4 separate regions of the Homo sapiens genome follow, and regions 2, 3 and 4 are each linked to region 1. The links come from fine-mapping of genetic effects on gene expression. A gene starts in region 1. Each other region holds a variant in brackets. All regions are shown on one strand. Distances are between the middles of the regions.

Region 1 (8,139 bases):
AAGCTCTCTGCAACATCAGCACCACAGACTCAGCATTGCCCTGAAGCTCTTTTGTAACTGGCTTTTATTGGTTTAATTAACCAAGGATGGGTGGGACAGAGTTACTCCATCTCTGTCATGTTATTGTTGCCGGCTTGTGGCTAGCAGCAGCTCTTTACCTTTTGTATTTGATACCTGGCCTGCACAATTAGCACCTTATTATAGGCTGGCCTCTCTTCTAATTGCCACGTCTCAATTGAGCACTTTATTTTATTGTCTTGTTCATGCAGTAGTTCGAGGTCCTGGGCTCCCCCACTATAATAAATTCTAAACTACTTTTAGGCAGGTGTTGTGTTTTGAGTTTATCTCTTTATGCCCATAAGAACACCAGGGACTCACAGGCATGCAAACACACTGTCTGGAGTTTCTAGATATCTGAGTATGGCATACGGTTGGAATCTGGGTCTCCATGCATGCTACTCAACCCTAGTACCAGATCTATCAGCCATCTTTGCCATTGAGGGCTCTCTCCTTAGCTACTTGGAGTTAAGCTCTTATTCTGCTCATATATAACCTTTTACCTTGTTTAAAATATTGGGTTGCAACAGACACAGCAACATCCCATCAGCACCACATTCCATGTTCCTCTAGAAAAATGATTCAAGGGATATGAGTTTATGCTTGAACAGACTTCTTGCTTTTGGAATTAAGATTAACTATATAGTTCATAGGACAGTTACCAACGCCATAACAAAATTGGGATTTCCTTCACCAAATAATCTGGTGAATGTAATAAAACCTGGGGGGAGGCTGTGTAAGGTGATGGTTAGGAGTATGGGCAGGAGAGCTAGACTGCCTGGTCTCAAGTCCTGGTTCTGCCATTTACCAATGATGTAACCTGTGACCCTGGTTAAGGCATTTAACCTCTCTGTGCCTCATTTCCCAATCTGTAAAATAGGGATAAGAATACTTGCATCACAGGGCTGTTGCAAGGATTGAATCAGTTATTTTTTATTTTTATTTTTTTTTGAGATGGAGTTTCGCTCTTGTTGCCCAGGCTGGAGTGCAATGGCGTGATCTCAGCTCACTAAAACCTCCGCCTCCTGGGTTCAAGCGATTCTCCTGCCTCAGCCTCCCGAGTAGCTGGGATTGCAGGCATGCGCCACCATGCCCGGCTGATTTTGTATTTTTAGTAAAGATGGGGTTTCTCCATGTTGGTCAGGCTGGTCTCAAACTCCCAACCTCAGGTGATCCACCGGCCTCGGCCTCCCAAAGTGCTGGGATTACAGATGTCAGCCACCGCACCTAGCCTGGTTAATCTTTATAAAGTGCTTAGAACAATGCTTGGCATACAATAAGCACTATGTAAATTAGTGTTGAAAATTAGAGTATAAGGTTTTAGAATACACAAACCTACAGAATAGTATGCCCCAATTCATTTATTCATTCAATAAATGAATCTAATAGTGATGGAAAAACAAGACGGTTTAATACTGTGCCATCCTTGACTTCTTGATTTTTTTGGTTATCATATGTTCTTTGAATTACTTCAATACACTAAAAAAGAACTCAGAATTTATGGATTTTAAAGACGTCCAATGCACTATTACAGCAAAGGTGATAAAAATGTTCTGGCAGCATTTAAGCCGAATGATTAGTGAAGACTGTCATTGTTTTAGTAGACAATTTAAAAAGGAACATTCTACTGTTTACATCTCTCTTACCTACTTAGCCTAATATATAAGACATCGTTCATAACATTATTTAGCAAATACTGCAGACCCTTGTCCAGTATGGAATTCCCGTCAATTGTGAGGGGGGGACAGTTCAAATACATGTTCTATATTTTAAGACATTGGAAAATCTTTATATAAAGATAACTCCATGGTATCTGAACTCAGGCTTTTCTTCCTGTGTCTTTCTGATCTGTCCATTTGCTGTCACCTCTTAAATCCTCAGTCTCCTCAGATATCCTAGCTTCTAAAATCCCACTTCCAGGGTCTCTCCTTTCTGAGCAATCTCTAGCACATCTAGAAAATATCATTTATAACATCAGCAATCTCATGTTATCTTATCACAACAGAGCTCCTCACATAAAACCCAGCCGTCCAACCACACACAAACACATCTAAGTGCCACAACAGGTGGGGCACCTGTGCCTTCATTAGGGAGGAAATCCTTCCGGCTTCACCTCTTTCAGTTTCCCTGGAAGGCAAAGTCCAACCCTGCAAGCTGTCTTCCTTTTAGGTGCCCCTGTGGAGAATTACGTAGAGACATAAGAAACATCTAATGTCCAGTCTACGAAGAACTGATCATCAATTTTGGAGCTCAGCAGTTTAATGCTTAAGAATGTGAGCAAGCACTTCCTCTCTATAACCTTATCAGACGACCTCCCAATCCCACTGTGCCCACTGATGCGACCATCATAGCTCTAACCACCATGATCTGTGGTTATGTTGGCCCTGGAGCCTTCATCTGCCCAGGGAACTTCTCTGGGCATAGTATGTTTTACTTGTCTTGTGTTCTAAAGGTAGCACAAAGCCTATCTATAGTAGGCTCCCAATAGTTATCTGAAACTGTATTTGAACCCACTATCTGATAAATACCATTTTTTTTTTTTTTTGGCTGAGGGTCCTCAAAAATGGAACATCAGGAAAGTCATCAGAATTGCTTTAACCTGCCCTCCTTGCTTCAACTAATTTGGGTTAACTTTCTCCCATTTATCCACACGGCTCCTTTAAAACTTGCACCATACTTTGTCAGCCCCGCCTTAATGAGTTCCTTTGGTGACCCCAGCTTCACCTTGCAGATATCCTCTCCGGGTATCCAATGCCCATACTCCCACTCGGCCATCGCAAGGGGTTGGGGTTGGCTTTTTTTCGGGCAACTGCTCACAGCTCCCAGTAATCACTTCCATCAAGCCGGGGTTTCCAGTTCCCGCTAGGAAGCGTTGGGGACGTCCGGGCACTGCGCACCTCGCCAGTGCCGGTTACCAAGCGCCTCCTCCCCCGTCTGTGGGACAACGCTCTGGTAAGCACCCGAGGCAAGAGGTCCCAGCAAGGTAATGGGACAGCGTTCGGTCACAGAGAGTGAGCGAGCCAGCGAGAGATATTCCTGGGTGGAGGGGTGGGGACGCCTTAGGACTAGTGTCCCCCATTCCCGGACCCTTCCCACCAAGAACTACCTAGGGAGGGCTGCATCGCCTCTCCAGCCATCCTAGGGACTAGAGAAATGGAGGGGAGAAGAGCAGGGAAACAGCACCCCCGGGCCAATCACGACGTCCGCCCCTCCTTAGTCGGGGTCTCTCTCTCTCTCTCTCTCTCTCTCACACACACACACACACACACACACACACACACGCTCCTAAGTCAACTCCAGCTCTGAGCAACTACGCCGCACGCCTCTCCCACTGGGAGTCCCCCGGCCCGTGAGGCTCGCCTCACCCCAGCTTCTTCACCCCTACCCCAGTTTCCCTTCCCAACTGACCGTGAAGCCGGAGGCAGTTCCCCAGTCCCAGACCCCGGTGGGGCTCCCGCCGCCGCCGCCGCTGCCTTCCCCTGCAGTCCCCAACCCGGGACCCGGCCTCGGGCTTCGGCGATGGCTCCTCGGAACGAGGCGCCGCGGCTCTCTGGACTCGGCCAGACACCGGGCGGCGCGCAGGAGAAGCCCATCGAGCTCTCCCGGCAGTGGCGGCGGCCGCGGCTGCAGGAGCGGCCGCCGCGCAGGTTGATGACGCGCTGACGCGGGGCGGGGGGGGGTGGGACGTGGGGGCGCGGTCCAGAGGAGGGGACGCGCGCAGATGACGTGCGGCTCGTGGGGCAGCTCGGCAGCATGGCGTCCGTGACGCTGAGCGAGGCGGAGAAGGTGTACATCGTGCATGGCGTCCAGGTAGCTACAGCAGCGGCGTTGGGTCGGCCGCCGGGTTCAGCCTGGCCCTGCGGGTCGCGGCCTGCCCTGGGTTTGCCAGTGAGGAGGCAGCCGAGCTGCGGCGACTCTCCGTTTACCTTGTGATTAAACGGTTCTGCTGCCGGCGTTTGCAATTCAGAGCTGGCAACGTGGACGTTTTTAGGACTGTTAGCGCATTTGCAGTTTTGCGGGTCTATAAGATTCCGAACCCGGGCAGGAAGCTTGGGCAGTCTCGGAGGCCTTTTCTTAGTGAGAGAGCATCGGCCCCAGGGCCATCCATTCGGCGTTCGCGCACAGATCTTGTCCGAGCCTCAGTTTTCTCTTCGAGGAAATGGGAGTTTGGAGGTGGGCTTCTGGCCTGCTTTTCCTCACCTCGTGGTTAGGAGGGCGCATGCGAGGTGAACGCACTTTGAAAATACAAATTGCCGTACAAATAAAGGGGGAAGGGTTTTTAAAAAGCGGCTAGGACGCCTGTAATCCCAGCACTTTGGGAGGCCGAGGCGGGCGGATCACGAGGTCAAGAGACCGTCCTGACCAACATGGTGAAACCCCGTCTCTGCTAAAAATACAAAAAAATTTAGCTGGGCGTGGTGGCGCACGCCTGTAGTCCCAGCTACTCGGGAGACTGAGGCAGGAGAATCGCTTGAACCCGGGAGGCGGAGGTTGCAGTGAGCCGAGTCTCAAAAAAAAAGCGGCTAGGCAGCCGATAGCCTAAGTGCTGTTTCCATTTTGCCAATGAAGAACTAAGATCCCTAGGCAGCTATAACCTAATGTCCTCTGTGTTCTATATTAAATCCCTGGTTATGACCACTCCAGAACGAGGGTTGAAAAATGTTGGACCTGGTAACGAGCTACCCTGTATCCTCCTCCGGCTGTGTCTCCACTTGTTAACCTACGGTGTGGTCCTCCTATCAGAGTTCTTCATCCCATCCTTGGCAGAGTTCTGGCGACAGCTCCTACCTCTTTTCCTCATGCCTTTCCTCTGTCAGTACCAACTGCAAAGTCAGTGGTCCCGTGATGTAGCCATCGGATTGAAGCGGCCAGCTATCATTGAAGTCCCACAACGTGAGTTAAGGACATGTCCATTTAAAAATCGTGACCTGCCGTTATCTTCTGGGCCCTTTATATATGAAGAAATGCCAATATTTAGCATATTATGCCTGGATAATAAAGTCAGAACTCACAGTTGCATATTTTAGTTATAATTCAGGATTAACAACAGTGGGACATATGTGTGTATTACAGGGTAACATGTATGTTATTTGTGTGTGAGGGGGCATAAAAATGCCCAAAAGCAGTTAGATATGTCTTTCCCTGCTATATTTTTGTATACACTTTGTTCAGGTGATTTTTATCCTCAAAGTATTTTTTTAGGGACACATTACGGATAACCGTTTTCCTCTAAATTTAAAAACCTTTGGTCTTCTTTGTTACCGGAGCTTACCATGATGTAGTGACTCTGTCATGTGTCCTATTTTCTCTCAACATTTCATCCCTGAAAGTGGCACTGAGGCATGGATATATCTGTAACCTCAAGGTTAGAGCTTTCTCCCCAGCACCCTTAATTCCCACGGCAGTTCATTAGCTATCCAGCAGCAGAGTCCCACCATGGTCATTAGTTAATTTTATTTACCAACATATATCTAGCTCCTGGCATGTTATGTGGGAAACAGCAGGGATGCCAAAACATGGTTGTGAAATAAATGAAAGATAGGAGGGAGACAAACAGAGAGTAAAAGTGAATAAAATAAAAACAAAGGTAATGTAAGATCTATGCCAAGGAAGTGGTATAGTTAGTGGAGGTTGAAGTTAAAGTATACCAGGGGCCGGGCATTGTGGCTCACGCCTGTAATCCCAGCACTTTGAAAGGCTGAGATGGGAGGATTGCTTGAGCCTAGGAGTTTGAGACCAGCTTGGGCAACACAGTGAGAGCCCATCTCTAAAGAAATAATTTTTTTTTAATAAATAAAAAGAATTCCAGGGACTTGTAATGCTCTGAAGGCTTCCCTAAGGAGGTGGAATTGCTCCCCTAAATCCATGTCAAGGATTCCTCCTCTGTATCTTCAGGACTCAGTATTCATTCATTCAACACAGAACTGAGCTAGACTCAGGGGCTAGGAAGGAACCTGTCCTTATATAGCTCTCATGCTAGAAGGAAGATGCAGAAACTATAAATGTACTTGAGTGTTTATATATAAAATTGTACTGAATGCTATGAAGGAAAAAACGGACACGATCTAGACTGGGAGGTCAGAGGAGGCTTCCCTAAGGAAATAGCATTTGAACTGAGTTCTCAGCATGACTGAGAATTAAGTAGGCACCAGTGTTCCAGAAGGAAGGGGTGGTGAGTCTGTAAATCCTCAGGTGGAGGACATGTGGAGCCCAAGGGGTGGGCTGGGGGAAATGGTGGAAGATCAGCTTGCAGAGGTGGCCAGAAGCACGATCCTAGAGGTCTTAGAGGTTCAGTCATTCGCTCATCATGGATCTTGGAAGGCAATAGCCTGTTGACTTGTCTGTATGGGGGACCCTTAAGGCATAGCCAGTGTCTAGCACTTGGTAGGTTCTTAGTAGCATTGAATGGGTGATGTAAGCTTTAAAGGGGGAATGAGTTGGATGGTGTTTTTATTTTTTAAATTAAACCTCCCTCTCACCAGTACCATGGACATATTTGGGCACAGTTGTTGGTAAATGCTCAGCTCTGTGTATCACAGAGCCATGCAGAGTAATGGGCTTCAAATCAACGTCTTCATAAGGGCTTATTAATGTTGGCCCAAAATATGCCATATGTATAGAGGAGCAAAACACAATTTACACCATCCAAATAAAGGTCAGGATGCAGGTGAATGAGCCTACCATGGAATCTCAACTGATTCAGTTCTGAAATCTCCTAAACTTTTGTTGCGTTGGTTATAGAGTGCCGGCAGTGCACCTTAAGCAGTGCCTGCCTGAACTCCTGTTGCTTGTATAGTCCTAGTCATTTTGTGTTTTACTTTTCACCTTTGGTCCAGTAACGTCCATTTCAGCTTCTGATGTCACTTTCCCTTCAGCCTTTGGTTCTTTTACTATTTCAGGGAATATTTCATCTTGTTTTGGTGATAGTTAGAAGCAGTTGAAATTAACCTCACGATGTGTTGAGGATTCAGTTGCTAGTAATGGTAACCAACACATCGGCTCAAGCAAAACAGTATGGATTACAAGGCTGCAAGTGTTTCTCCAGGAATCCTAATCTCTGCTGGTTTTTTTTTTCCCCCTCTTTGCTTTGTTTTTGTCTCCCTACAGATTGGTTTTCTATTTCTTGGGCCAGTGGTAGAAAAAATGTGGTTCCTTCCCAGTTCCTCTGTAAAAGAGACCATTCCTTCTCGTTCAGTTCTGAACTCATGTTTCCAAGAGAAAGAAACTCTAGTTCTTTTAGGGGGTTGAGGGAAAGGATGGACAGAATAATTAGGCTCAAACATGGCCACTAGAGGATGTGTCACACTTGGGAGAAGTCAGTTTGTGAGAAGGGAGGGTGGATCATTTTAGTTATTGGCAGAAAATGGAACCCTCTTCAGGTAGTTCAGGAGACTTTTATGATGGGACTCTAGAGCAGTATGGGGGGGGTTTCAGGGAACCAATAAGAGATGTTGAGGAGCCCCAAGACAACTACTGGGAGTGGCTACTGCCCCTATTCCAAAGGGGCCAGGGGAGGAAACAGTATTACCACATTTCAGTGATAGCTGGAACTGTGGAGGAAGGGCTGCCCAACATAAGTCATAGTCTTCGATAGATGCAGGCACTATCAGAAATGTGGCCACTAGATTGGGGGTGAGGGGCACCCTCTGATCTGGTATCTTCCACTGGACAAACCCAACCAGAAGCCAGCAAAGGGAGTCTAGGTGATACAATTTGAGTCAACCTGGTGAACAGATCCCCTCTCCCAGGGGAGAACAGAGAATCAAAAAGGTGGATTAAATCGGTATTTTGATAAATAATTTGATTGGTTTCTGTTAGGTTCTCTTTCAGTCTTTGAAGGCTATATCCCATTCTTATTAGGTACATATTATAATTTTTATTTCATTGAATATTTACAACAGTTCTGAAGGTAAATGTTATCTCTATAGATGAGGAACTGAGCTCGGGCAGGTTGAGTCGCTTGTCAAGGTGACACAGTAATTGAGTGGTGGCACTGGGATTTAAATCCAGACCTGTCTGATTGCAAAGCCCATACTTGACTCTGAGGCCACCTTCCTGCTGCAGTGAAAGTCATTTCTTCCA
Region 2 (8,139 bases), 190 kb after region 1:
CTGCAGGCAGCCCAGCCTTTTGAGTGGGCAATAATATGGCTTGGAATTGTTTCCCCACCAAAATCTCATGTCAAATTGTAATTCCCAGTGTTGGAGGAGGGGCCTGGTGGGAGGTGATTGGATCACTGGGGCGGTTTCTAATGGTTTAGCACCATCCCCCTAGCGCTGCCTTGTGCTAGCGTTATCTGGGGATCTGGTTGTTTAAAAGTGTGTAGCACTTTCTTTTTTTCTCTTTCTCCTGCCAGCCATGTAAAATGTGCTTGCTTCCCCTTCACCTTCCACCATGATTGTAAGTTTCCTGAGGCCTCCCCACAAGAAGAAGCCTGTACAGCCTGCAGAACCATGAGCTAATTAAACCTCTTTTCTTTATAAATTACCCAGTCTCAGGTATGTCTTTATAGCAGTATGAGAACAGACTAATACAGGGAACTAGTGTCAAGTTGCTGGCAGAAGATTCTGAAGCGGTAGAGTTGAAGCCTCAGGAGCCTGGCTGGCCTTCAGGGTCCCTGCTTCCTCCTGTCATGTGTGTCATCCTTGGGCAGTGCTTTCTGTCCACTCCATGTTCTCCTCGTGGTTCTTACCTCCTCTCCTTGTTATCCAGGACATCTGCTTTATATGCATTTTCTCCATGTGTTCTGTCCAGTTTAATGGCTCTGTAGTAAAAAGATTAATCCTGACATAAGTAAGAGACATCTGGAAACAACTGACCCTGTTAATTCTTCTCTTCTCTCCTAGGGCCTCAGGGTTCTCAGTGGCTCTGCTCCAAGGCCTCACTGGGGAGCGGGAGAGGCCCATTTCAGTGGGTGAGCAGATGGGGGCTCCTGGGCTGAGGCCTTCCCAGAGGCTGGGCGGTGGCCAGCCATGATCATGGGCCAAGGTCACTTGTTACTGTACTGGAAGAACAGGGCTAGGACTGGAGGTCAGGCCAACCCAGGGTCTCAAGACCCATTCCAGGCAGGACCAGTCCCCAGCAAAAGGCTGCCAGGCTGCAGCAGCCCTTGATTTTCTGAGCTGCTCAGGGTAAGGACATCCTGAGAAGGAGGCTGCCTTTAGAGAATAGGACCATTAAAAGCTCATCCTAAATGAAGCACCACCAAAACTCCTCAAGATTGTCATGGTTGTTCAAAAGATGGCCAAAGTTTCTTTCTTTTTCTCACTCTGTTCCCTCTCTAGCTGCACCCCTTGTCTCCCTTCTCTCCCTCTCCTTCCTTCTCTCTCCTAATTGCATTTCTCAGTGTGCCTGCATCTGACTGCCTGTCTGCCATTGGAATGGGCACAGGTGTTGGGGGAGGATGTCTCCACCACAGGTCAGCCTGGGTACCAAGGAAGTGTTTGGGGAACTGGCTTCACTCCTTCCACCCAAGCCTATGTCACTTTTCAACCGACCAATGCAGTGAACAGAACTCTGAGTCACGCAGGAAATACAGTAATTTTCTGAGGAACAATAAGCATCCATTCTGCAGTTGCCAGTGGTGACTATATAGCCCTTCACTGCCATTGAGCTCTTTATTTTGGGGGGACCGGGGGTGGTATGTGCATATCTGGCTCTCTATTTTATTTTTATACAAACGATAGCATATACTGTTTGTCTTGCCCTCAGGTTTGGTTTCTGTTGCCGCTGTTGTTTTCTTTTCCAACATCATAAGCCTCTTCCTTATCTTTCCATGTCTGCACACAGGAAGCGGCATCACTTGTTTTTCATGTCCTGCGCATCGAGGCACACTTTCTGCTCCTCTTTGTGCCGCCAGCCGGCCCAGGCCCACAGATGGTAGGACTTGTGCCCCAGGCTGCTGTGTGAGTCAGAGTCAGGCAGGAAGCAAATGGCAACTTCACCGCGGTGACTGAGGAATGCTTAACGAAGGCGCCGCCCTTGACAACGGTGTGGGTTGGTAAAAGGAAACAGCCGGGAGCCCTGCAGCGCCGGTGCCGCCACCGTTTAGTCTGACTGTGCATTTGACTAAGTCACAAGAGGCCAGGCCTGTGACTTGTCCGAGGGAAAAACCACCAGAAAACCAGGTGTCTGGGCTCCCAATCAGTAATCTTCATTGGGTTTGCTTTGATTGTAAACGAACAAAAAAAAAGCTTAGTTATTTAAATTCCATTCATGAATCTAGGAAGGAGCTTAGAAATTAGCCTTTTCCACAATCAAGACCAATTAGTCAACTCTTCTATTGTAAGTTTTCATCATTTTTCTGTTTACCCAACTTACAAACTGCTTTTTAAGTCAGAACTTGAAGATTTATTCCTGGCAAATGTTTTTAAGAGCAAAAATTTGGAATCAGTGTAAGTGTCCCCAAATAGGATAATGGGAAAGTAAATGAGGATACATCTACTCAGTGGAAAATATCTTAAACTGTTTGAAGTTTGCAATAAAGTGGAAAATGCTTAGCTGTTATGTTCAAGAAAAATTATGAAGTCTAATTTATTTAGAGTGCCATGATAATTATGCTAATTCATATAGGCACTGAAACAAAAAAAAAAACCCTAAAACTTACATGAAGAAAAATAGACTGGAGAGGAAGACACCAACATGTTACTGATAATGATTATCATTTTATGGGTGAAATGAGATTGATTTTTATTCACTTCTCTCAACGTTTCCAAATTTTCTCCAGTGGTCATCTAATACTTCCAGAACAACAACAGCATTAACTACAAGATCACAGTTCAAAGAAACAAGTCGCTGAGATAATTTGACAAGTGGTCTATATCCAGAGCCATTAATATACCCACAACTTCTGACCCAGTCATTTCTCTTAGGAATCTGTCCTGAGGAAGTAGTTCAGCTTTCAGAAAAAGCCCTAGGCAGGGAGATGTTTACTGCAGGGAAAAACTGGAAACCACGTAGATGCCAAACACTGTAAAAATAGTTAAAGAAAACGAGGTTCAGCCACTTGACACCACTACGTATTCATTAGGAAAGAAAATGATGACAAAAAGCATGCACTGTGACACCAAAGACAAAACTCAGCATTCACAATTGAATGTGCAGTATGATAAGAGGGTTTGTTTATTTTTATTTATTTTTATTTTTTATTTTTTTGAGATGGAGCCTTGCTCTGTCACCCAAGCTGGAGTGCAGTGGCGCCATGTAGGCTCACTGCAACCTCTGCCTCCTGGGTTCAAGTAATTCTCCTGTCTCAGCCTCCCGAGTAGCTGGGATTAGAGGGGTAAGCCACCATGTCTGGTTTTTGTATTTTTAGTAGAGATGGGGTTTTGCCATGTTGGCCAGGCTGGTCTCGAACTCCTGACCTCAGGTGATCTGCCTGCCTCGGCCTCCCAAAGTGCTGGGATTACAGGTGTGAGCCACCGTGCCCGGCTATAACAGGATTTTAAAAACGCTATAGGTGTTGAAAAAAAAATCCTCAAAGAAGACGAGATGAATGGTTATTGATGGCGGGGCAGGGTGATGAGATTGTGTGTAGTTTCTTTTCTTGATTCAGCATTTTCTGTAATGGACTTGTCTTGCATTTATAACTGTAAAACGTAATGAGTAATGGAACAATTACTTGGTTCCAAAGCACAGAGTCCAACAGGGAAGGCTGGTGGAGAGCAAGCCCCTTTGTCAGCAGTGGAACAAGAGGGAAGGAGCCATCGAGGAGGGACTGATGAGATCTGACTAACTCCAGCACTAACGAAGCAGTGAGTGGGTGAAAAGAAATTGCGGGGCCTTGCAGGGGTCTAGGTGGGGAATGGAAAGA[T/C]AAGGAATGCAAAATACACAGTTCTGTGGAAATCACTCAACAGTCAACAGACCACCTCTGGTGGACGAACATCAAATTCTGTCAAATCCCTCCTACCCTAAAGGTCAGGGAGAGGAGAGCTGAGGGCAGCCTCTAGGTGACCTGAAGAGGGGACATGCCCAGTAGGACATAGGAAGCCTGAGTGCAGGGGTCAGTACTGCCAATCTTTAACAGAGGATGCAGGGATTGACCAGAGCGCCCTGAGGCCACAGTGTCCAGCTCACAGTGTCTGTGATTTGCATTGCCCTTTTCTCTTGAAATTGTCTTCCTCATCCTCCACAGTGTGGTCAAAACGGCTTCCCCTCTGAGGCCTTCCTTCATTTCCCCCACCTGGATGGCACATCGTTTATATGTGGGTCTACAGCTCGGTGCCACAGCTCAGAACTGATTTTGTTCCATCTGAAAACAGCGGAATATACACCTGTCAGCTGAGGAATGTTTAGGATGTTCCATATACCGTGCTTGGTTCCCAGTTGTCCCGGGCTGGGTTAGAGCCTGGCTCTGTGTATTTGTGCTCCAGTTACTTCATGCTGCATAATAAACATTCCAAAACCTAGGGGCTTTATTTTGCTTGCCTCTGTGGTATCAGCTAGGGCAGCCAGAAGGCTGGGGCAGGAATCTTCCGAGGCTTGCTCACTAATGGCTGGTGACTGGTGCTGGCTGCCAGCTGGGACCTTAGCTGGCACTGCTGGCTGGAACACCCACGAGTGTTCCTCCCTTTATGGCCTGGGCTTCTTCACAGCATGGTGGCTGGGCTCCAAGAGAGAGAAAGGAAGAGAGAGAGAACACATCAGACAGGAGGAAGCTGTATTTTCTCTTATGACCTAGCCTCAGAAGTCACACAATGTCACTCCCCTGTGTTTCATTGGTTAGAATCGAGTCACTAAAAGGGACTCATAGTCAAGGGAAGGGGAATGAGACTCTACCATTTCCTAGGAGGAATGTTGCAGACAGGTCTTCAACCCCCACTGTTGGCCTTTGTTGTACGCCTCTTCTTTGTACCTAACATAGAGCCCTGAACAGAATATTAGGCAAAATTGCTGGTTGGGTCAAGTTGCCTTCTGGATTGGTACAGATCTGGGTGCAGAAGATAGATTGGAATGAACCCACTTCCTTCCCATTAAGTCACTCAGAAACACAAAATGTTTGGAGAAGTCAATCATTTTCTGCCTCCAGCTGCCCACAAGCTTGTGAGTTGACTAGGTCAAGTTTACTGTCTACATTCTGTCCCCAGTTTCCCTACCCAGCCTTTCCCCCACTGCAGCATAATGTCAAACCCATCGTTTAATCAGACAGGTACCCTCACGGTCTCCCAGCAGGGGTACCCCCAGGCCTTTGCTCAGGTGGTTTCCTCTGCCTGGGACGCCCTCTCTGCTTCTCCCTACTTTCTGTTTTTTTGTTTTGTTTTGTTTTTTGTTTTTTGAGACAGAGTCTCACTATGACACCCAGGCTGGAGTGCAGTGATGTGATCTCTGCTCACTGCAACTTCTGCCTCTTGGTTTGAAGGGATTCTCACGCCTCAGCCTCCCGAGCAGCTGGGATTACAGGCATGCACCATCACGCCTGGCATATTTTTTAATTTTTTGGTAGAGATGGGGTTTTGCCCTGTTGGCCAGGCTGGTTTCAAACTCCTGGCCTCAAGTGATCCACCCGTCTTGGCCTCCCAAAGTGCTGGGATTACAGGTGTGAGCCACCGTGCCCGGCCTTCGCCTTACTTTCTCACTCCTATCCAGTCTTCACCACCCAGCTCAAAGAGCTTTCTTAGCATTTCCCTCTCATCACCGTCACTCACTCCCCAACCTTTGCCTCAGCAAAAAGAAGTGACTAACAAACCTGTATTCCCAAAGCCACAACCCTGCACCCATAAGGGAGCTCAGGGCAGCAAAGCCAAAGCCCCTGGCTCCAGGCAGCAAGGCAGAGTGGAGAGATCTGGACCACTGGAAAAACTAAAGCAAGAGGAGGTGGCTCCCTCTCGCGACAGCCAGTGCCACCAGAGGAAATTGAAGGATAGACTGATCTCTTTAGAAAAGCATAAAAATACAAAATTTCATGTGAAATTCCTTAATTTGTAAAGGTTGATAACTAATTTAAAAATTTAGGCTGCAAATGAATCCCCTGGGCCACATTTGCCCCTCTCTCCCCTTCACAACTTTTGACTGAAAAGATTTGGGGCTGAGAGAAAGGGTTTAGGGAGGGCCTTGGGGAGTGTGGGGTTTTCTCTGAGGGCTAGAAGCTAGAAAGGGTCAGTGTGTTGAGGATGGAACTTCTGGAGGGTTCTTGAAAGGCCTTGGTGCAAATGATGCTCCCAAACTTGGACTCTGCTCCAAGGGAGACATCTACCACTGCAGCAGAATGGGGCTTCAGTGGAAGCTGGGTTGAGTTATAGAAAAACAAAACCTTAGGCAGGGCGTGGTGGCTCATATCTGTAATCCCAGAACTTTGAGAGGCTGAGGTGGGTGGATCACCTGAGGTCAGAAGTTTGAGACCAGCCTGGGCAATATGGTGAAACCCCATCTCTACAAAAATACAAAAATTAGTCAGGTGTGGTGGTGGGCACCTGTAATCCCAGCTACTCGGTAGGCTGAGGCAGGAGAATCGCTTGAACCTGGGAGGCAGAGGTTACAGCGAGCCAAGACTGCACCACTGCACTCTAGACTGGGCAACAGAGTGAAACTCCATCTCTAAATAAATAAATAAAAATAAAAATAAAAAAATAAATTGGGGTCAGGACAACCAAGGGATGCCCCAGTGGACCACCCGAGTGCCAAACATATTCTTGCCTGCCCCCATTGTGTAATCAGCAACCCTGCTTTCTCCTGATGACCAGGGTCCCGTTACCCACGATGGGATGGTGGCTCTTCTCCCTGCTGGTCTCTCTGCACAAAGAGCCCAAAGTGACTGGAAAGCAGCCATAGCTAGGAGTTTGATGGAATCCTCAGAGTGTCACTGGTAGAAGTGTATCCTCTTCTGGGAACCAAGATCTCTAAACCACAGAGCTGTGGGAATGGGACATTGAAACTGGTTAAGAGATCTTGTCCTGGAAGTGATGGTAAGTGGGGCGACTCAGGCTTCCACCCCTTGATTTCCAGGTGAACCACTCCTCTCAGGGGGTAGGGGCACAGTACCATACAATGCCTGTTGACTTAGAGTGTCAGGATACATAGCGCCCTCTCCAGCTGGTGCTTTGGCTGCCTGGACCTTCAGTGACCATTCCACCTCCGGCTGGCCTCTAGAGGATGAGGACGTGGTATCACCAGGGACCTCATGGTCACTTGCCTTTGCAAAGTAGGTCTCTTTGTCTCAATGCTACATGGGATCCTGTATTGGTAGACCACATATTCTGCAGGTGCTGGCCAAGGTCTGTGGGCATAATAGGTGAATCCATGCCCACAGTATGGGTCAATTCCACCCAGAGTGAATTGCTGCTCCTTCCAAGGTGGAAGGGTTCAAATGTTGAACTAGTCACTGAAAGGCTGGCTCGGCTCCCTAAGGGTTGTTGCCATTTCGGCCTCAGTGTTGGTCTCTGGGGCTGTCAGGTTAGACACTGGATAGTGGCAGTTGCTGCATCACCTTGGAGAGTGGAAGGCTATGGTGTCCAGCCCATGCGCAATCCTCCATCCGTTCTGCCTTGATGCGTGTGAAAGAACCCAGCTAGTGGTAGCATGCACTGTTCTGCGGTAACTACTCTGTTCATGTACCCATGTGGCCAGTGATGGAGGCTGGGAAAGTCACTCTGACCATGTGGCTGTTCAGTGCCTTTCCTGTAGTGGGTGCTCTGTGGTGGACATTGCTGTGCAATACGATTTGGTGCCCATTCCTGTGGGCCCATCCTCTTGTCTTGCAGGTCACGCTGTGCCCCTTCCCGAGGGTCCATCCAGGTGCCTCTTTCCCAGCCCTCCTTAGTCTCTTTCTTCCAATTTTTCTCTTCTGGGCCCCTGAGGAACTAGCGCAGCCATTTTCTGCTGCCTGCACACCTGCGTAAATTCTAATTTAAGACCACTTCTCTTTCTATGGGGAGGGTTTTCTTTCCCTGCTGCTTTTCAGGGCTGCCCCTGGATGGAGTTGTGGTCGATTTTTGGCCCTCACCCACAAATTAGGCTGAGTTATTTGTGAACCAAATGCAGCCTTCCACCCAAGCCCCCAACTCATGGTCATTGGTGTGGCCTGAAGGAAGGAGGGGTGGTCCTGGTGCCAGAGTGTGCAGATGACATGAGGTCTGGTCCATCTGCTTGTACAGGTGACTTGTGCCCTCTGGCCCTGCTTGGACCTAATCTTGGAGGTGCCACTTCCATCTTATGATGGCTTCCTGCTGAGTCTGACCTTCTGCTTTGGTAGATGTGAAAGAACCCAGCACATGATGGCAGCCTTGGCTGTGTAAGGGAGGAAATATTTCACCTCT
Region 3 (8,000 bases), 97 kb before region 1:
AGACTCAGTCTTGGAGGGTACAGAGTCCTTAGGACTGAGAAAGGGTGGTGTGGTGTGATGGGAAGCACCTGCTGATTTGAGAGAAGATTCATGTCTAAATAGCCCTGTGGCTTTGGGCAGGTTACATCAATCCCGTGAAAGCACTATATAAATTACTGAGGACTACCTGAAGGAAAGGTAGTCCTGACCCACACTGTCATTTTCAAGAGGTGTGACCTGTTCACTGGGGAGGTTTGATGACTTGACTGAGGTCCCAGCCATGGGTGGCAGAGCTGGGACACAAACCCGGCGTGTGTTCATTTCATGCCACACTATGCTGCCTCCCTGCTGGGCACAATTTGACTTTACTCTCAAGGTCTAAATCACCAAAGACAGTCATCTCCTGGCCACCAGTGTTGGGGTGTTGGTGAGGGGAGCTGACGCTCCCTGAGGTGTCCTTTCTGATGGGCTTGTGCAAGTAACCATCACATGCCACCTTACAACATTAGCAAGTTGTGATGACTCCATGGTGTTTTCATGAATATGATTTCATTTGTTCTTCCAACCACTCTAGGAGGTCAGGACATCCAAATAGGGACCTGGAAGATGGTGATATGTGTGGGATAAAGGTAGGATTTCATATAAATGGAGGAAATGAGAAATTGTGCACTTTATGGTATTAGGACAACTGGTTAGTATTTAGAGAAAAACAAAGCCAGATATCTATCTCATGGCTTATCCCACAACGAATCCCAGAAAGGTCGAAGACGAAACTGTAAAGGCAATAGAAGAAAATGAAGGCAATATGAAAAATAATCTTAGAGTAGAGAAGGTGTTACAAAGGAAAATAGAAAACCTAGAAACATAAAGGAAAAGAACAGTAAAACTGACTCCAGAAAAATTAAAAATATGTGTAAGACAAAACCTCCAGAGTCAGAAGGTAATGGAACTGTGAAGGGTACTTTCAACACATATGAGAAGCAAATGCTGTTCTGTAGTATAAAAAGAGCTCTCAGATCTATAAGAAAATGACCAACATCCCAAAATATACATGGACAAAGAGCAGTATTAGGTAGTTCAAAGAAAAAGAAATATAAATTGTAATATATGAAAAGATGCTCAACCTTACTTGTAACGAGGGTGGTCATGAAATAAAACTGAAACAGCAGGCCAGGTATGGTGGTTCATGCCTATAATCCCCAAAATTTGGGAGGCTGAGGTAGGAGGATTGCTTGAGCCCAGGAGTTCGAGACCAGCCTGGAAAACATAGTGAGACCCTGTCTCCACAAAACAATTTAAAAATTAGCCGTGGCCCAGCAAGGTGGCTCATGCCTGTAATCCCAGCACTTTGGGAAGCCAAGGTGGGCAGATCACTTGAGATCAGAAGTTAGGGACAAGCCTGGCCATCATGGTGAAACCCCGTCTCTACTAAAAAATACAAAAATTAGCCGGGTGTGGTGGGGTACACCGGTAATCCCAGCTACTTGGGTGACTGAGGCATGAGAATTGCTTGAACCTGGGAGGCGGAGGCTGCAGTGAGCTGAGACTGCACTCCAGTCTGGGCAACAGAGCGAGACTTTGTCTCAAAAATAAATAAATAAATAAAAATAAAAATTAGCCAGACATGGTGGTGCATATCGGTAGTTCCAGCTACTCAGCTACTCAGGTTCAAGGCTGCAGTGAGCCATGATTGCAACACTGCACTTCAGCCTGGGTGACAGGCCAAGACTCTGTCTCTTAAAAAAAAAAAAGGTTATATAAAAGCAAAACAGCAATGAGATTTCATTTTTTCATTTATCAGATTAGCCAAGATTAAAAGTTTAATAGTAAATAGCTTTAAAAAGGCATCTTCTCATCTTTTTGTAGGAGTATCACTGGTGCAGTCGCTAGAAGGCTCTCTGGCAACATTTGCTGAAATTAAAGATGCCCATATCCTGTGACACAGCAATTCTGCTTTGGAAGATTTCTCTTACAAATATTGTCACACATGAGTGCAAAGATACATGTACAAGGAAGTACATTGTAGCATATAAGATTTTAAATGGTCTACATGTCCATCCAGGGGGATAATAGCTACTAAAAAGTAACAAGGTTGAGACCAGCCTGGGCAACATAAGGAGACCCCTTCTTCACAAAAAATGAAAAAATTAGCTGGGTGTGGTGATGCATGCCTGTAGTGCCAGCTACTCAGGAGGATGAGGTGAGAGGATTGCTTCAGCCCAGGAGGTCGAGGCTGCAGTGAGCTGTGATCACACCATTGCACTCCAGCCTGGGAAACAGAATGAGACTCTGTCTCAAAAAAAGAAAAAAAAATTAAAAGAAAATAATAACAAGATCTACTTGGGTGGTTAGGAGATAAATTTCAAGACATGTGTGTGAGAGAGAGAGGGAGAAAAAGAGAGAGAGAGAGAGAAGCAAGGCGCAGAATAGTGTATTGAGAAAGCTCCTGTTTCTGTAACTAAAGTAATGGTTTATGGCAGAGAAAACTGGAAAGATACCTAGATACTTTATAGTGATTTTCTCTGGAGAAAGGATCTGGGAGTCTGGGATGGGAGAGAAACTTAATTTTTGTAATGGGCATTTATTACTTTTGTTTTATTATTATTATTATTATTATTATTATTATTATTATTATTATTATTATTTGAGATGAGGTCTCACTCTGTCACCCAGGCTGGAGCACAGTGACGTGATCTCGGTTCACTGCAGCCTCCAGTTCCCAGGTTCAAGCGATTCTCCTACCTCAGCCTCCTGAATAGCTGGGATTACAGGCATGCGCCACATTACCCAGCTAATTTTTTATTTTTAGTAGAGATGGGGTTTCACCATGTTGGCCAGGCTGGTCATGAACTCCTGGCCTCAAGTGATCCGCCTGTCCTGGCCTCCCAAAATGCTGGGATTACAGGCGTGAGCCGCTGCGCCTGGCCTCTTCTTTATCCTATTTGTGATTCTTTGTGGTTCCTAAATAAGAGGATTCATGTCTCTCATTCATTTTGGAAAGTTTTCAACCATCACCTCTTCGCTGCTGCTCCCCATTCTTGATTCTCTCCTTTCAGAACAACTATAGTATATAGTTTAGCCCTTTTCATCCAAGACTCCGCGTCTCTAAACTGCTTTTCATATTTACTTCTATTAATATTTCTCTAGGTTGTATTATAGGTATTTGTTTCCAGTCTATTTTCTAGTTCACTGATTCTCTTTCAGTTATGTCTATTTGCTGTTTAACCTGTGAGTTTTTTTCATTTTGAGAACCATATTTTCATTTTTAGAAGTTATGTTTTAAAAAATTTATCTGGTCATTCTTAATAGTGGCTTATTCCTTTCTCATCATTCTGATTTATTCTCTTAGGTCCCTAGCCATTTTTGACTTGGCTATTTTATGGTCTCTCTCTCTCTCTCTCTCTCTCTCTCTATATATATATATATATATATAGTTTATTTAATTTAATTAATT[T/A]ATTTATTTATTTTTGAGATGGAGTTTCACTCTTATTGCCCAGGCTAGAGTGCCATGGCGTGATCTCGGCTCACTGCAACCTCTGCCTCCCCGGTTCAAGCAATTCTTCTGCCTCAGCCTCTCGAGTAGCTGGGATTACAGGCATGTGCCACCAAGCCTGGCTAATTTTTTTTTTTTTTTTTGAGACAGAGTCTCACTCTGTCGCCCAGGCTGGAGTGCAGTGGCGCAATCTCGGCTCACTGCAAGCTCTGCCTCCCAGGTTCACGCCATTCTCCCGACTCAGCCTCCCAAGTAGCTGGGACTACAGGCGCCTGCCACCACATCCGGCTAATTTTGATTTTGTATTTTTAGTAGAGACGGGGTTTCACCGTGTTGGTCAGGCTGGTCTCGAACTCCTGACCTCAGGTGATCTGCCCACTTCTGCCTCCCAAAGTGCTGGGATTACAGGCATGAGCCACTGTGCCCGGCCCTATATTTTTTAATATTTTATTTTATTTATTATTTTTTGAAATAAGGTCTCACCCTGTCACCCAGGCTGTAGTGTAGTGGTGTGAACATGGCTCACTGCAGCCTTGACCTCCCAGGCCCAAGAGATACTCTTGCCTCAGCCTCCCAAGTAGCTGAGACTGCATGTGCACATCACCATTCTCAGTTAATTAAATAATTTTTTTTTAAAGACAGGGTTTCTCTATGTTGCCCAGGCTGATCTTGAACTCCTGGGCTCAAGGGATCCCCCTGCCTCAGCCTCCCAAAGTGTTGGGATCATAGGCGTGAGCCACTGTGCCTGGTCCATAGTCTATATACGTTATTTTATAGTCTGTATATTATCTGATTTCTTGGACGAATACTTGTGTGGTTTCTGCTGAAATAGTGTATTTTGTGTTTTAAAATTTGGGGCTATAAGCTCACCTTGAGTGTGACTTTATCTGTGGGAATGCCATAAAACTTTGGTGGAGAATGAATTACTCCAAAGAAGATTGGCGTTTATCCCCTAAACCAGTGACAACTGTGACTAGGAGCCAGTTTCTGCCTATGAGCCAAGGACAACTGTTTATTTTACTTTCTCAGTATGGGGGAATCCCAGACCTCTACAGAAAGAGGTGATGTTTGAAATTTTTCATAACCGGTATGCATTCTGCAGGGGCTGTGCTCCCACAAGCACTCTGGGAAGGAGACTCTCCAGGAGTGCCTGCTGGCAGGTGGCAGTAGACTCAGGCAGCAATATGGACACTGGGGGGTGGGGGAATGTGATTTCTTGTGGCAAAAAGTACAAAGAAAAATCAGCAAAGGGAAAAGCCTGCTGGGGTGAGGTCCTGAGGGAGCTAGGCAGGTCTTCCAAGAGTCCTCTCCAGTGTCACACAGGATGTGTTTAATTCCTTTAGCAATTAGTTGTGACATGTTTTTTCTCTGTGTATCTCATTCATTCAGCAATCATAACTTTATTTTCTTTTTGTTTTTAGTAATCTCTTATTCTCACCCAGACCTTTCATCTGGAATGGTTGTTTGCAAGAGGGACAAAAGCATTTTTACAGAAAAATATTTTAATACAACCTAACCAGAATAACACATCATATTCTGGAATTGGTCAGGACAAAATCCTGAATTTTCAAAAATTTTCAAAATGGTAGTTCGGGTGTGGTGGCTCGTGTCTGTAATTCCAACATTTTTGGAGGCTGAGGCAGGAGGATCGCTTGAATTCAGGAGTTTGAGACCAGCCTGGGCAACATAGTAAGACTTCATCACCACTATGAAGTGCACTATGGTGCACACCTGTAGTCCCAGCTACTCTGGAGGCTGAAGTGGGAGGATCCCTTGAGCTCAGGAGGTTGTGGCTGCAGTGAGCCGTGTTCACACCACGGCACTCCAGCCTGGGTGACAGAGCAAGGCCCTGTATTAAAAAAAAAAAAATCAAAGTAATCTTAAATAACCTCTCACTATTTTTTGTCCTGATCATTTATTCATTGAGCAGCCTAGAAAAGGTCAGTCCCTTTCTGGGGAAAGCTGTATTTAATAATCAAACTGCCTTACCAGAAGGAAGGAGAAGGAAATTGTATTAGTTTATTTTCTGTTGCTTATAAAAGAATACCTAAAACTCAGGTAATTTATAAAGAAAAGAAATTCATTTATTACAGTTATGGAGGCTGAGACTCCAAGGTCGAGGAGCTGCATCTGGTGAGGGCCTTCTTCCTAGCGAGGACTCCCTGAGGAGTCCCAAGGTGGTGCTGGGCATCACATGGTAAGCTCAGGTCTTCCTCTTCTTATAAAGTCACCAAGATCCTCTTAAGTGCGTTTTTTCTTGTCATTTCAAGAGTCCCACTTGACCCACTCAAAAATATACATACAGACTGGAAAATCATAAGCTTCTAAGGCTGACAATTTCACAAGAGCTCATTAGCAACTAATGCTAATTTTAGTTTAAAAGCAACTTTGCTTTTTAAAACTCCAAAAGTATATCGCCATCTGGAGATTGCTTGTCTTTTATGTTGTCTCCTTTTTTCCAGAGGCTTCATAGGCAAAAGTTATAGCAAAAATTATCCATTGCAGAGACTTTTGTTTTTTAATACTCAAATAATTTAAACTCCAACCCACACATTGGTGGCAAGAAACAAGGACATTGTATTCCACTGACACTTTTTCTTTGCAGGTTTCCCTGGTCATCTTGCATTTATGACACTGCAAGCATTAAACTGGTATATCAATTTTGACCATCTATCCAAGTGCAATAGCTACAAAATAAAAATACAAACGCTTTTTTTTTTTTTTTTTTTTTAGAGTTGAGGTCTCACTTTGTTGCCCAGGCTGGCGTGTTGTGGCTATTCACAGCTGCAATCATAGCTCACTGCAGCCTCAAACTCCTGGGCTCAAGTGATTCTCCCACCTCAGTCTCCCGAGTAACCGGGATTACAGGTATGTGACTCCAAAGGCATTTTTTTAAAGACAGCCCCAGTGTGGCTTCCTGTAGTTCCAGGATTCCTCCAGCCTCCCAGATCTGCCTTAAGCAGTGCTCAGGTCACAGAGCAGTGCCCAGGAGAGGGTGAGGGAGGAGGCTCCAGTACTGGCCATCTGTTATGTGCTGTATGTTGGTTTCTTAGGGCATTCAAATGACCACAAATGAGGCTGCTTAAAACAACAGCAATTTATTATTCTCTCGTTCTGGAAGATAGACATCCAAAATCAAAATGTCCGCAGGGTCCTGCTCTTGCAGAAGCCTCCAGTGGAGAATCTTCCCTTGTCTTTCTTGGTTTCTGGTGGCTCCAGGTGTTCTGTGGCTTGCAGCTGTGTAACTCCAGTCTCTGCCTCCATCTTCACATGACCCTCCCCTTGCCTTTCCATGTCTCTTATAAGGACACTTATTCTTGGATTTAGGTCCTACCTGGATAATCCAGGATAATATAATCACAAGATCCTTAATCACACCTGAAAATCCCCTATTTCTATAAGGTCACATTCATAGGCTCCAGGTGGAGATATCTTCTGTGGGACCACCATTCAACCCACTATATGCCCATCTGCCTAACATTAATGATGGCCTGCATTTTGTCGAGTGCCTACTGTGTGCCAGGCATGTGCCAGGCACTCAATGTGCACACTAGCCACCAAGGGAGGGACTATGTTTACCATTCCAGGGAGATAAGGTCTTAAGAAGCTTCCACAGAGATGACTGCATTTAGGATTTGGATTTCTTAACTGCTCTTTCCTGCTTCCTGGTACCAAAACCTATACCTTTACCCCTTGGGAACCCAGGTCACCCACCTGCCCAGTCCATGGGGGAGCAGGAATAAGTCAGAACATGGGAGGGACTGTTAAAGCCCTTTTCCAGCTGTGATTGCTTTGCGATTGGCTCTGGGTCCCACAGCAGGAGCTCTGCTGTCCAGGGAAATGAAGAAGCCTTTCAGGATTGCAGCTCCTGACAGCATGCTATGGTTTGAATATGTCTCCCCCTAAAATTCAGGGGTTGCCAATGTGGTGATACTAAGAGGTGGGGCCTTTAAGAGTTGATTAGGTGATAAGGGCTTCTTCCCTGTGAATGAGATGAGGTGCCCCTCTAAAGGGACCTGAAGGAGGGAGTTGGTCCTCTCTCGCCCTCTGCCTTCTGCTATGTTACAATGCAGCAAGAGGCCCTCACCAGATGCTAGTGCCTTGATCTTGGACTTCCCAGCCTCCAGAACTGTGAGAAATAAATTTCTATTCTTTCTAAATGACCCAGTCTCAGGTATTCCATAACAGTGGCACAAATGGGCTAAGATGCTCCAGCTAGCCATCGGCCCACCCCAAGGTTTCAGCCCAAGAAGGGGAAGCACCTGGGAAGGTAGGTCTGTCTGCCAGGTGGGCCTCCCTGCTGGAGGCAGCAGGTTCCCAGGCCCTGTGCGCAGTGTGAAGGGAAGGCCACTTGCTGGGACTTGCCTTCCTGGAGAACACTTGTCCAGACCCCAATCCCAAAGCCACTCCAGCAAGAATGAGCTGTGCTGTCTCCAAACACATCACTGGCCGCATCCCCAAGGTAGGCATCTGATGTGGGCGTGACCACTCCACCTATTTTGTAGTCATGAAAGCCCAGTTTCCATGG
Region 4 (8,139 bases), 61 kb before region 1:
CCACCCTACTACAGTTGCCTAACACAGGCAGAATTGGCCAGCTACTTGTCTGCAATTGTATCTTCAAGAATACCCTGGCCATCCCTTTGACTGACGTCAAGTTCTCTTTGGAAAGCCTGGGCATCTCCTCACTACAGACCTCTGACCATGGGTGAGTCTGCCTGAGGTATTCTTAGAAATATGCTTCTGGACATATATCTTGCACATGTGTGCATATTCCTGAGAAGTGAATTCCCAGTATGGGGTCACAGGGTCAAAATGTAGATACATTTTGCTAGTGCCAAATTACTTTGAGAAAAGATTGCATCAATTTATGCTCTACCGACAGATCTTTTTGATTCTTGCCAATCTAGTGGTTAAGTAATCTCATTGCTTTACTTTGCATCTGATTATTTGTGAGGTTGAATATTTCTTACATTAATTGACTCTCTCCTGTGAATTGCCTGTTCCTAACTTTTGTCCATTTTTCTACTGAGTCATTTATTTTTTCATATTGGTATGGTGTCTTTACACAGTAGAGTGTTATGTGCTGTGAATTTTTTTATAGCAGTTTTGTATTCAATTTTTTAAATTTGATTCTTATTTATTTTGAGGTGGAGTCTCACTTTGTTGCCCAGGCTGGAGTGCAGTGACACGATCTTGGCTCACTGCAATCTCCATCCGTCCCCAGGTTCAAGTGATTCTCCTGCCTTGGCCTCCTGAGTAGCTGGGATTACAGGCATATGCCACCACACCCGGCTAATTTTTGTATTTTTAGTAGAAACGGGGTTTCCCCATATTGGCCAGCCTGGTCTTGAACTCCTGACCTCAGGTGATCTGCCCGCCTTGGCCTCCCAAAGTGCTGGGATTACAGGCATGGGCCATCATGCCCGGCCGAACAGTTTGTATTTTTTTAAACACTAAGATGTCTTTCACCAGTAGAACTTTTAAATTTTAATGTAGTCAAATTTTTCAATCTTTTCCTTTACGGATACTGAATTTCATGTCATCCTAGGTGCATAGAAATATTCTCTTATGCTTTTTCTAGAATTTCCAGCTTTATTTACACAATTAGGTATTTATCTGGAATTTTTTTTGGGTGTGGAGTGATGTGGAGCTCCAACTTTGTCTGTGGTTTTCCTAGTACTTTGTAGCACTGCCTTTATTATGCTGTCAATTCCCATATATATCTGGGTCTCTGGACTCTTTAATTTGCTATTTCATTTGTCTTCTTCTAATATAACATCATACCACTTAAATTATTGTAGTCCTATAATAATTTTATATGATTATCATATCTACATATTGATATGTATTAGGCAAATCCCCACCCCACCCCCATTTTTGTCTATAGCACTTTTAGAATCATCTTGTCATATAATTTTAAAACAGCTGGGATTTAGATTGATACTGCATTGAATTTACCTATTTATTTGGGGGAGAATTATGCCAAATGACAATATTGTGTCTTGCCATCTAGGAATATGAGATTTTCCCATTTTTTTCCAGTCTTTTTTATCACCTTTAGAAAAGCTATATTGTTTTCTTTATATACCACTTGCACGTTATTAGTTGGGTTAATTCCAAGATGCATCAATATTATAGCTTTTATGAATGGAATATTTTTCATTGTATTTTCTAATTGTTTGCTGGACTATATGGAAATTGATTTTTGGCATGCTGATATATCCAGCAAAAAACTTTACTGAACTCTAATGTTTTGTTTCTGAGAGGTTTCTGATGGTCTGTTTCTTACAGGATGTCTGAATCTTCCAAGTAAAAATGAGTAGACTCCTATTTTCCTTAGACCACGATTTATCACATTTTAATGTGCACACAAATTACCTGGGGAGTATTGTTACAGTGTAGATTCTGATTCAGCAGGTTTAGGGTGGAGCCTCAGATTCTGTGTTTCCTACAAGCTCAGCTAGTATTGCGAAGCCCCAGAACACACTTTGAGTAGTGAGGGGCTAGCCAATTCCTTGCATGTGGATTCAACATAAAATACATGTTCCTCTTAGATTTTATGTAATAGATGACTGTTGCTAATACTCATGAAACAAGAACATCTGTAGTAAAGTCAGGCAAGACTCCAGGGAAGATTTGTGAAATGTCAGAGTTGGAAGAGCTTCTGGAAACCAGCTGGTTCACCCGTCTTGCTTTACATCTGAGAAAACTGATAGCAGCACCCAGGGTGCAGGTACACTGTGCCATGCCCTGGAATGGCCAGGACTTTTCAAAGAGGCTGAGCTAAGGCTCAGTTTCCTGGCTTCTCACCCAACTCATCTTCTCCCTCTTCCCATAACATCCTTGGCTGATTGTATGTCCGTATGTCTTTGAATTTTCCAGGACGGTGCAGCCTGGTGAGACCATCCAATCCCAAATAAAATGCACCCCAATAAAAACTGGACCCAAGAAATTTATCGTCAAGTTAAGTTCCAAACAAGTGAAAGAGATTAATGCTCAGAAGATTGTTCTCATCACCAAGTAGCCTTGTCTGATGCTGTGGAGCCTTAGTTGAGATTTCAGCATTTCCTACCTTGTGCTTAGCTTTCAGATTATGGATGATTAAATTTGATGACTTATATGAGGGCAGATTCAAGAGCCAGCAGGTCAAAAAGGCCAACACAACCATAAGCAGCCAGACCCACAAGGCCAGGTCCTGTGCTATCACAGGGTCACCTCTTTTACAGTTAGAAACACCAGCCGAGGCCACAGAATCCCATCCCTTTCCTGAGTCATGGCCTCAAAAATCAGGGCCACCATTGTCTCAATTCAAATCCATAGATTTCGAAGCCACAGAGTCTCTCCCTGGAGCAGCAGACTATGGGCAGCCCAGTGCTGCCACCTGCTGACGACCCTTGAGAAGCTGCCATATCTTCAGGCCATGGGTTCACCAGCCCTGAAGGCACCTGTCAACTGGAGTGCTCTCTCAGCACTGGGATGGGCCTGATAGAAGTGCATTCTCCTCCTATTGCCTCCATTCTCCTCTCTCTATCCCTGAAATCCAGGAAGTCCCTCTCCTGGTGCTCCAAGCAGTTTGAAGCCCAATCTGCAAGGACATTTCTCAAGGGCCATGTGGTTTTGCAGACAACCCTGTCCTCAGGCCTGAACTCACCATAGAGACCCATGTCAGCAAACGGTGACCAGCAAATCCTCTTCCCTTATTCTAAAGCTGCCCCTTGGGAGACTCCAGGGAGAAGGCATTGCTTCCTCCCTGGTGTGAACTCTTTCTTTGGTATTCCATCCACTATCCTGGCAACTCAAGGCTGCTTCTGTTAACTGAAGCCTGCTCCTTCTTGTTCTGCCCTCCAGAGATTTGCTCAAATGATCAATAAGCTTTAAATTAAACTCTACTTCAAGAAAACTCTGTGGTCCCTGAGTCCTTTTTTCTTTATGCCAATAAGCTTCTTAAATGTGCTGGCGGTTTATGCAGTCACTTGGGGAGCCATGGAATCCTTTGATCTCCCCAGGCAAGGTGCTCTGAGGAGTTGGCTTCTTTATTGTCTGTTCAGTACATCCAACCCCTCTCTCAAAGGCTGTCACCCCAACTGGATACACACCCTGGCAAAGGCACGTAGCTTGAATGAGGGTTATTTTGTGTCTAATTCACAGGAGAGTCATGGGTGGGATACCTGTCATCCTCTGCCTTTCCAGCTGTCCAAGTGAAAAAAACCTCAATCCTGGTCACCCTTGCCCAAGTTGCCCACATCCCTGGCATACAGTAGGTGTTCAATAAATGTTTATTGAAGGAAAGGTGACTGTTCCTTCTGCTGGAAATACCACAAGGGTGGTGACACAAACAAGAGTTTGGTCAGTCACTCCACAGCACAGTGTCCGATCCCAAGAGGTGATATAGCCCGGCACGGCCACTGTGTGGTGCCGTATGACACTCACTTGTCTCCCACACTGGGAATGGAAGAAAAGTAGCTTTCCTAGAGGTGCCTTTAGGGTGGCCCATAAGGAAGGACACTGCCCAAGGGTTTGAGCTGGGATCTCTTAATTAAAACAGGAGACTCCAGTCACTGAGGGTGAGCAAAGAGCTTTTTATTCAAAGAAAGAGGCAAATTGCACCCAATCTCTCTCCCTGTAAGATCTCATCTGGTTTTGACATCAGTTGCAATGCTTTCAGT[C/T]TGAGGCTAAGCAGAATGTTATGCTGTGAATGGTCACCACAGAGAGACCACTGTGTTGCTGGTGTGGGGAGGCGAGGCTCAGGGTTGGACAGGTTAATTACCTACATAACCCTGGCTGTGGCCCAGCCCAGCACCTCCCAGAACAGGGACTGACATGGCTGAGGTCTACCTTGGAGATGGGGTCAGTGAAGAGGGGAGGCAGGGTCAGCCTCTGTGCAAGTAAAATGCCCCCTCACCCCAGCCTTCCTTTCCAGAGCAACCAATCTGAAAACAGAATTGCCTTTGGGGCTGGTGTTGTACCTCTGCTTTCAGGCCAAGATGGATTCCCTAGAAGAGGAGTTTGAAGCCCAATGTGCAAGGACATTTCTCAAGGGCCATGTGGTTTTGCAGACACTGCTGTCCTCAGGCCTGAACTCACCATGGAAACCCATGTCAGCAAACAGTGACCAGCAAATCCTCTTCCCTTATTCTAACTGCTGCCCCCTAGGAGACTCCAGGGGGCAGGCATTGCTTCCTCCCTAGTGTGAACTCTCTGGTATTCCATCCACCATCCTGGCAGCCCAGAGCTGCTTCTGGGTTAGGACAACAAATAGGGGGCCCTACAGTCAGAGCAGCTCTTACCCAAAGTGGTGAGCGTCAACTTCCTGTCCAGATTGCAAGTTAATGGCCTTTACAGCTGACTCGGGCTCCTATGTCGTCATTAATAAATATTAAAGCTGATAAGGACCAAGAAAGTGGGCCTGCAGCCTGAGTGTGGGAGGCCCAATGTCTTTCTGGTTGCTCTGTTGATGTTAGAATCCCACCATCACCCCTCTCGTGGGTCATAGTTGGAGAGCTCTGGCAAGGGTTAGGGCAGAGGTGGCTTTGTGAACACTGGGCCCTTTGAGCAATTAACCCCAGGCCCTAGTGGGTCATCAGTTGTAGAGAGACGGTCTCTGGCAGGATCGTTGCCCTTCACAGAGTGTCCAAAGATGCTGTCCAAGAACCAGGATGCTGCTTGGCTCTTTTCTTTCTCACGGTCGCCAGTTTCCTTTCTCAGCATCCTGAGGCTGCACCTCCAAACACTGACCTTCTTCTCCTCTGAACTGCAGCCACAGGCCCCTTGGGGCCAGGACTCATGCCCTTTTGCCTGGAGCTGGAAGGGGGGCCCTAACACTGAGGTCTTGCAGGGGCATGCTCTGCTGAGTGCCTGTGCTCCTGCCAATCCTGACGCCAGTAGACGCTGGGGAAATGGGCCAAAGAGAGGAACAAAGGCACGTGGAGGGAGTGGGTGGTGAATCCACTTCTTATACCAAACGGGGATAAGAACCCTTCTGTTGGGCTTTGTGCAGAAGATGCTGCTTCAGCAACCACTGGAATGGGGTTTAGGAGCACCAGAACGCTGCTCAGACCTTCAGCAGTGGTCACAGACACCACAGGCTTCAAATGGGGTGAATAGAGGGCAGACTCATCCTGGTGGGGTGTGTGTGTGTGTGTGTGTGTTTGTCTATCTTCCTGATTCATCTGATTCATCAATCAGCAGACCCTGGCCATCACCCATCTTTTCAGAGACAAGATGGGCACCAATTTGGGAGAACTGGCCTTTTCAAACACACAGGCAGGGTTTATGGTCAGTTCTACCTACATGTGTTATTAGACTCCCTCCAAGAGGTAACATTCAATTAAGTTCTCATGCGAGTGGTTAGGGAGTCCCCAGTAGCTCCAAAGAGGTCCTTCCCATATCCACATCTGTGAATGGCTAGATATGTAGCCACAGGCAGGACAGCTCCCAGCTGTCTCGCTCAGTGAAGACTCCAGTGTCTGTGGAATGGGGGCTCATTTTCGGTGCTACTGTCTTAACTCTGGCTCTGTCCATGCTGGACATGTCCTGCACATGTGTGTGTAGAGCTTAATGCAGGGTCCTCTTTGAACCATGCCTGGCCCTTGCAGGTAGATGTGGCAGCCACCTCTACCTCCTAATTTCGGCAGGCAGCATGGGGAAGCCCTTTCCAGGGAGTAGCTGGCAGCTCTGCAGTCTTTCCAGGCTAGTCTCCCCTGATGTCAGTGTCCCAACCCAGGTCCCCAAGGCAAGCCCTGCCCGGTCCTTCTGTCACAACCTTACTTCTCAAAGCCAGGAGCCAGGGGCCCAGCCTTCCCAAGAGAAGACAGAAATCCTGGGGAAAGCCAAAGGCAAGCTCTTTTCTGCCCCTGGGATGCCCTGTTCAAAAGCTCCCTTTGCTGGGCGGAGAATGTGAAAGCCACCCAGTCTTGGAGAACGGTTCTTGATGAGCCGTCTCAGTGCAGACTCTTCTTAGATGAACTCTGAGAAAGCCCCCATCCTCCTCTGATGTCCCCAGCCTACTCCCGACCCCCAGACCTGGCCCAACATGGAGAGAAGAAGGAGGGGAAATGGCAAGGCCAAGCGAGTGGCTAAGGGAAGCACTGGGGGTGCTGGGAGCGCACCATGCCCATAAGCCCCTTTAGCCAAAACCCCAGGATGAAGGTTGACAGCACTTTTTAGTGTTTGCTTCTCTCCCCACAGCAGCATCTATTCATCTGTCACCTCCACAGAGTCCTCGTCCTTTGTCTCCTCTGATGGATCCTCCATTGTTTCGGTGTCTGACAGCGATGTCACCTGCCGCACCATGTCTTTGTCACTGGGGATCTCTGGCTGACACGGTCTGGAGAAGGGGTTGAACCAGTTCAGGGAGAAGTCCCCACCAAAGGTCTCCTTTACTGACTGCCAGCTCCCCATGTGCTCCCTGGGCTGGTTCTTTCGTTTGAGGCGCTCGATGCCCTGCAGGGAGAAGGGGATGAAGAACATCGTCAGCGTGGTGCTGGGCTGTACAGCTCACATAGACACCCCCAGCTATAGCATAGCAGTGGCGGGGGGGGGGGCGGGGTGTCCACGGCATGGGTAAGATGGGGTCTGAGTGGGCAGTCTGTTGTGGCCCAGGTCACCCCCGGGAGGTCCCTCAGAGGACTGCTGGGGTGTGGGTGGACAGCAGCGTGGAGGAACACAGCAAGCAGGGCCCGCCTGGTGGACTGACGTGTTCTCCACCCACCACCCAGCCCTCCCCTTCTTTCCTTCCACAAGTGCAATGCCAGATGATGGGCAGGGGCTAGGCTGATGAGTGGCTGAGGCATAAGGGGGACCACACATCCTCTGAGGCCACTACAAACTGGTGATCCCCTCCTAAATATTTTTGGCCACTCCCACCAGGGTAGATAGGGGCTGCAAACACAGCAGAAGGACGATGGGGTTAAGGAAGGAGTGCAGGACACAAACAGCATGCGAGGTGAAGAAGCGGGTGCTCGTACAGCAAGTGCCAACATGCATTAGGCAGCCGGAGGGCACACAGGACCACTGTGGGGAGGTAAGGCTGGGCTCAGGCCTGCTCATGCAGCAGATCCACCCTGCAGCCTCTTCCAAGCTGTCAACTCACCTGCCTCTGGGTGTCGGCTGCAACTCAGCCACCAGGCCACAGAAAGGGTGTTGGGGTGGGGAGATGCCCAGAGGAGGTAAAGACATGGCCAGGCCAGCTCTCCAGGCCCACAACACCCTGCACAGAGGCCTTTGACCCTCCACTGGGGGCACTGCTTTCTCCATCTCTTCTGGAAGCCAAGGGAATTTGCTGTGGGTTTGCTGGGCTTGGGCACTGCTCCTTCACATGACTCAAGAAAGATCTCTGTGTATCTAGCACTTTTTCTTCCCACGCCATTTCAGAGATTTAAGATTCTTGACTTTTGAATAAATTCTAAGTTAAAAAAATTGGATCTCAAAAGTATATCCTCATAAGATACTTATCAATTACAAAGGGAAAAACAGTACCTTAATAGCAGGGAAGAAACATTGCACGTACCACCTTCACCCAATGATCAAAGTTAACATCACAATAATGAAACGTATCAACACCATATGCCTCCTGATACGGTGCAACGAGGACACATTGCTTCAGCAGTGCTCCTGCCCCAAATGCCTAACCTCAATCTAATCATGAGAAAAACATCAAAAACACAATCTGAAGGACAGCCTACAGAATACCTG

Direction of the effects. Positions count from the first base shown, and alleles are read on the strand shown. Sizes are in standard deviations (SD) of each study's normalised expression. Not every link is listed here.
As copies of T replace C in region 2, the expression in activated CD8 T cells of the gene that starts at base 3,707 in region 1 goes up (large effect, 0.92 SD a copy in Schmiedel 2018).

The links.
Region 2: its variant is fine-mapped to the expression of ZDHHC3 in activated CD8 T cells (Schmiedel 2018, PIP 0.95).
Region 3: its variant is fine-mapped to the expression of ZDHHC3 in whole blood (TOPMed, PIP above 0.99).
Region 4: its variant is fine-mapped to the expression of ZDHHC3 in whole blood (TOPMed, PIP 0.94).

What each region holds. Positions count from the first base shown.
Region 1 is chr3:44,972,468-44,980,606 of GRCh38, forward strand. ZDHHC3 (zDHHC palmitoyltransferase 3) reads right to left here and starts at 3,707. Exons shown (of 7, transcript NM_001135179.2): 1 at 3,466-3,707. EXOSC7 (exosome component 7) reads left to right here and starts at 3,777. Exons shown (of 8, transcript NM_015004.4): 1 at 3,777-3,867. The coding sequence starts at 3,811. RefSeq lists an enhancer at 2,687-3,231 and silencers at 3,454-3,553, 3,674-3,743.
Region 2 is chr3:45,165,839-45,173,977 of GRCh38, forward strand. No RefSeq gene overlaps it. Among named protein-coding and RNA genes, the nearest start is that of CDCP1, 24 kb to the left of the region's middle. RefSeq lists enhancers at 375-1,338, 1,339-2,302 and a silencer at 1,863-1,982. The variant T/C (reference allele first, on the strand shown) is at 3,702.
Region 3 is chr3:44,875,876-44,883,875 of GRCh38, forward strand. All of the region lies in intron 1 of TGM4 (transglutaminase 4), which reads left to right. Among named protein-coding and RNA genes, the nearest start is that of TGM4, 5.3 kb to the left of the region's middle. The variant T/A (reference allele first, on the strand shown) is at 3,434.
Region 4 is chr3:44,911,256-44,919,394 of GRCh38, forward strand. TGM4 (transglutaminase 4) reads left to right here. Exons shown (of 14, transcript NM_003241.4): 13 at 15-151; 14 at 2,329-3,735. The coding sequence ends at 2,470. It overlaps ZDHHC3 (zDHHC palmitoyltransferase 3), which reads right to left. Exons shown (of 7, transcript NM_001135179.2): 7 at 4,006-8,139. Among named protein-coding and RNA genes, the nearest start is that of TGM4, 41 kb to the left of the region's middle. The variant C/T (reference allele first, on the strand shown) is at 4,113.